Linked DNA regions of Homo sapiens: region 2 is linked to region 1. The links come from fine-mapping of genetic effects on gene expression. Tissue or cell type: adrenal gland. Region 1 holds a variant in brackets; the other region holds the start of a gene. All regions are shown on one strand. Distances are between the middles of the regions.

Evidence for each region. PIP is the estimated chance that this variant, and not a neighbour inherited with it, causes the effect.
Region 2: ZNF469 starts here. The variant in region 1 is fine-mapped to the expression of ZNF469 in adrenal gland (GTEx, PIP above 0.99).

Annotation. Positions count from the first base shown.
Region 1 is chr16:88,237,457-88,240,209 of GRCh38, forward strand. It overlaps a transcript of ZNF469 not described here. Among named protein-coding and RNA genes, the nearest start is that of LINC02182, 45 kb to the left of the region's middle. RefSeq lists an enhancer at 2,687-2,753. The variant C/G (reference allele first, on the strand shown) is at 1,439.
Region 2 is chr16:88,381,620-88,384,372 of GRCh38, forward strand. ZNF469 (zinc finger protein 469) reads left to right here and starts at 1,340. Exons shown (of 3, transcript NM_001367624.2): 1 at 1,340-1,635. RefSeq lists an enhancer at 156-699.

The DNA.
Region 1 (2,753 bases):
CCACTCACCCTCCCTGCCCTCCGTGCTCCTGCCACGCACCCTCCCTGCCCTCCTTGCTCCTGCCACGCACCCTCCCTGCCCTCCGTGCTCCTGCCACTCACCCTCCCTGCCCTCCGTGCTCCTGCCACTCACCCTCCCTGCCCTCTGTGCTCCTGCCAGTCACCCTCCCTGCCCTCCTTGCTCCTGCCACTCACCCTCCCTGCCCTCCGTGCTCCTGCCACTCACCCTCCCTGCCCTCTGTGCTCCTGCCAGTCACCCTCCCTGCCCTCCGTGCTCCTGCCACGCACCCTCCCTGCCCTCCTTGCTCCTGCCACTCACCCTCCCTGCCCTCCTTGCTCCCGCCACTCACCCTCCCTGCACTCTGTGCTCCTGCCAGTCACCCTCTGCCCAGCCCCGGCAGCTGCTGATCTTTCTTGTTTTCATGGTTTTGCCTTTTCCTGAATGTCATGGAGTTGGAATCACACAGTATCCAGCCTTCTCCAATGGGCTTCTTCACCTAGCAGCACCTAAGACTCCTCCCTGCCTTTTCACAGCCTGGCAGTTCCTTTCTTTATAGCACTGAAAAATATTCCATTGTCTGGAGGGACCCCAGCCCATCCATTCACCTATGAAGGTATCTTGGTTTCTCCTAAGTTTCTGGAGATGATGAAATCCACCCTCTAATTTTCACCTGTTTCTCTGTGCTCCGCCCCTCCCAACTGGGAGCTCTGACGGGGAGGGGGATGCCCACGCTGCCATGTGGCCGGCAGCACCCACTCACCCTGTGTCTGCTGAACTGCATGGTAGGGAACAGAAGGGAGGCTGGAAGTTCCCCGTGGGAAGGGAGAGAGGAATGAGCCCTTCTGTCCCTCTGTCGGGTGGAGAGCCGCACAAGTGACACACAGGGGTCCCTCCCTGATGCTGCTGGGAAGGAGGCAGGAGGAAGGGATGTCCCAAAGTGGGACGCAGAGACCCTAGATAGATAGACCCTAGGTAGACCCTAAATAGACCCTAGATAGACCCTAAATAGATAGACCCTGGATAGATAGACCCCAGATAGACTCTAGGTAGACCCGAGGTAGACTGCCTGGGTCTTTCCAAGCCAACTTGAGGGCTTCCCTTAGGAGGCCACTGTCCAGGTCCTCTCTGGGTTGGAGACTGGGGTTTGCCAATCACCACTTAATTTAAACACTTTAAAATGTATATATCTGAGAACATTCAGGACCAGAAGGCAGTGAAGTTGATAGCTTCCTATCAACCCTCTTAAAACCATGGAGATCCCAGCCTTCTCTGCAGGGAAGGGGGCAGAGCCCGGAACCTGACCCTGGGGCAGCCATGCCCTGTGATAATCCACCAGAGCCCAGCAGCCCACTGTCCTTGTTGAGAAGAGCAGGCGCCTCTGCTTTGTAGTGGAATCACTGCATACAGAACATGCTTCTGAAAGTTCCTGCCCCTCAGC[C/G]TTGTGGAGATCCGGCCTCCCTCCCTCCCATGGCCTTGGCTGTCTGCCCAGCTTCAGGAGATACAGTCCAGCCTCCTTGGTGACTGTGTGAGGCTGGGTGAGTCACTGCCCCCTTTCTGACCTTGTCTGATTCATGGTAAAACGGGCTATGAGTAACTGGTTTAATCTTGCACATGAACTGGGATTGACTGGTAATGGCTGTCTGGAGTCTGGGTCTAGCTCTGTGTAGATTAGACATGTCTGCCATGGTGCGGGTGAGGGAGGTGGGGTTGTGCCGAAGTCTCTGCCATCGGCTATTCTCTGGGGTTTTTCTACTGGTCCTACTCGTTTTTGTTCATTTTATAATCCAGAGTTGTGAGTTGGGTAGATCAGCTGGGAAAAAATTGAAAAGTAGTTGTTTTAATTATTTCCCCTTTATGTGGTTAAAAAGAAGATGAAGAAGATTCTTTAAGTTCTAGCATTGACTGTTGAAAGCCACTTATATAAAAGGTGCCAAGAACTACAGGATTCTTTCATCTACTGCTTTGCTTCAGGTGAGACTTGGAATATGATGGGATCAGGAATGGGTCTGAGTGCGAATTTTCATGATGGTCTCTCTTTTTTTTTTTTTTTGAGACGGAGTCTCGCTCTGTCACCAGGCTGGGGTGCAGTGGCGCGATCTCGGCTCACTGCAAGCTCCGCCTCCCAGGTTCACGCCATTCTCCTGCCTCAGCCTCCCGAGTAGCTGGGACTACAGGCACCTGCCACCACGCCCGGCTTATTTTTTTTTTTTGTATATATATATATATATATATATATATATATATATATATATATATATATTTTTTTTTTTTTTTTTTTTTTTTTTAGTAGAGACAGGGTTTCACTGTGTTAGCCAGGATGGTCTCCATCTCCTGACCTCGTGATCTGCCTGCCTTGGCCTCCCAAAGTGCTAGGATTACAGGTGTGAGCCACCATGCCTGGCTAACAATCACTGTGGTCTCTTAATGACAGTGTTATCTTGCATGCCCAGAAATTTACATTATTTCCAGCTTGAAATTGCCCAGCTAGGTAGGTATTACAATCTGATGGTGGAAAAGCTCAGGCAGACCTGCCCAGGCCCCATTGGCGGTGGAGGGGCTGCTGCTCTGGCCTGTGCTCGGGGCCATCGATCCTCCTGCCCAGAGAAGAGCCAAACACCCATGCCCATTGGTGACTGACCCTGAGCCGGCGATGCTGGCTGCCTATGATGATTTAAGGGGGTGATTCTCAAAGCCTGCTCTGTCCTGCCAGCCCCAATCAGCAGTGGGAGGTGCTCCCGGTCATTTCTGGAGGT
Region 2 (2,753 bases), 140 kb after region 1:
CCATGGAAAGGGAGATCCCAGGACCTGGAGGCCCCAGATGATGCCATGGAAATGTGAGCCAAGCCTCGAGCCTCTGGGGCCTTTCAGCCCCTGCCCCTTTTTCAATTCACGTTTTCGCGTCCACTGGCAGGAATGCCATGTGCTGCGATGCCAGCACAGAAACCCCACTGCCATGTGCAGTTCCTTTTAGTTTATTCTATACCGTTCGCAGAGTCCCAAAACAGCTTCAGGAGGCAGACCAGATTGGGGGAGGGGCAGGCCCACTCATTGGCTCCACCAGAAGGCCCGTGGTTAGGCCACACCTTGCTTTACATAATAAAGGTGTCCTTAAAAGGGTGTGCAACTTGAACTTGCGTAAGTAAAGCGTGCTTGACCTGCTCCCGGGGGACCTTTGTCTGAAGGACTAATTCTGAAAGCATTCCTTTCTGCGAAGTCCCCCCACTGCCACCCTATTTCTTAGAAGTCCACCAAGTTCATGACTTGGGATCCTCTGAAGTGGGGGAGGGCGATCCGTCCCCAGATGCTGCCCGTAACGCTGCACCCCTGCCCTTGGAGGAGGCCCACACGCCCCTGTCTGGGACAGCCGGGGACGGGCACGTACTGGGCCAGGGGGCTCTGCCTGGAGCCATCTCCGCCGTGTGGCCTTGGGCAGGTTCCTTGTCTTCTTCAGGCCTTGGTTTCCTTGGCTGTGAATGGAGATGTTGGACAAATGACCGGTAAGGGCCTCTCCCTCTCTAGGGGCCTGGATGGCTCCTAGCGCCCCACCAGCAATGCTGCCGAACTCACGGGCCAGTCTGGGGCAGTCCCAGGGCTGGACAAGGGACCCAGAGTGGAGACACGAAGGTCTGGGGGCAATGTTAGCTCCCACCTATGAGAAAGCGTGCCATGGGGACCTCCTTATGGTGCCTTCGAGGGCCAACTTGAGCCACTCAAACCGAACTTGCCCAGGCAGGTGCCAGGTGCCAGTCGGGACATCCCCCACCTCCTAGACAGAAGCACAGGGACAAGCGTGTCATGTGTGGGCACCTGGGGAGCTGGAGCGCAGGCCAGGGATGGAGATAGAGCAGCCACTGGAAGCCACATGGGTAGCATTATGGCAGACGTTTTTTAAGTTGTGCTGAATGCAGCGTTTCCGTCTCAGCAGCAAGGCCTGCCATTCTGGGGTGGGCTGGCTGGGGAGTGTGAAGAGGGGGTTCAGGGAGCAATGCCTCAGGGCCCCCCATCGCCGGGGTGGGTCCCATGAAACAAACACCTAGGAAAAGCGGCGCTAAAAATAGCTGGGGGGAGGGTGCGGGGGCGGCGGAGTCTGTAACCTAAGCCGCCCCAGCCTCCGGGGGGCAGACCCCGCGGCCGCCGGCCGGCGTCCGGCCTTCCCAGCACCCGGCCCAGGGCTGGAGCTGGCTGCAGGGCTGGCCCGCGGCGACCTGGGCAGGGTGGCGGCTGCTCCCTCTCCTCCCACCCCGCCCCGAGGCGCAGCGCGCGGCAGAGCGGCTCGGTGCCCGGCGGGCGGGCGGCCCGGGCGGGCCTGCGGTCGGGATGAGGACGGCGCCTCCGCTGCAGAGCGCTGGGGCGGCGCGGGCCGGGAGCTCGTTGGCGGCGGCCGGCGTGGCGGGCGGAGCGGGCCTCGGAGCGGAGGTGAGTGCGGATGCGCCGCCTGGGCGCGCGCGGTGCCTGGGGACCCCGGGCTGGAACGCGGGGCGGGGGTGTCACCGGGCTGCGCGGGGGTCTCCGGCCCGGCTCCCGCTCCTGCGCCCTCGGGGGCCGCTCCCCGGCGGGGCCGGACCCTCCCAGCGCTCGCGGCGCCCGGCCCGGCTCCCCCGACCTCCTCCTCCCGGGCCCGGACGTGCGGGGCAGCGAGCGCCGGGGCCCGGCGGGGGCCGCAGCCTTGCCCGGAGCGGAGCGTTGGCAGCGCGGGGTCCGGCTCCGTGGGCAGTTTGGGAAGCGCCCGGGCAACGTACTGGCGAGGGCCGCGGAGCGAGGGGCTCGGGGAGCGGGACCTCCGGGCGGGGCTGCGGGGAGCGGGGCCCGGGCCGCCCCATTCATCGCGGATCGGAGCCGGGGGTGCCCCAGCCGTGCCGCCGCCTCCTCCGGGCCGCCCGCCCGGGCGTGCTGGCCCCGCGGCGCTCCGAGCGCGGCATAGGCTTGCGAGTCGGCGGTGTCAGCGCCCCGGACGGGGGTGGGAGCTTTGGAGCCCACCCTGGGGGAGACCACGCCGCACCCCCGCCCAGCCCCGCGCACCCCCAGAGGCTTTTGCAGAGCCGGGAAGTTGGCTGGACGTCTAGACCCGTGGGGACGCGGCGCCCCGCGTGGCGGCGGCCGGAAGGGAAGGCCAATGGGGCTCGGGGGACTCCCGCGGCCACCCAGTCCTTGTCCCTGCACCCTGGGCCGAGGGCAGAGGGACAGGTCCCCGGCGGGGGCGGGGGGGCAGCTCAGCTGCCAAGTCCGCTCCTGCAGCGGAGGCGGTTAACTGCTTCATCCCCAGCCGTGAGCCATGCTGGGCATAGGGAGTGTGCCACGTGTTATCACGTTTAATCCTTACGTCCTGAGATCCGTGTTAACCCAAGTCTTAGATGCAGAAACTGATGGTCAGAGTGGGCTGATGCTGGGAAGTGAGCACAGCACGCGGTAGTGTCGTGGACAGCCCCTGCCCATTCTGCCAAGAGCAAGTCTAGTTCCCTTCTGCCGGTCGGGTGGACAAAGGTGTCTTGAGGCCCTCTCAGTGCCCAGCCTGTCCTAGGTGCCCCCAGCACAGC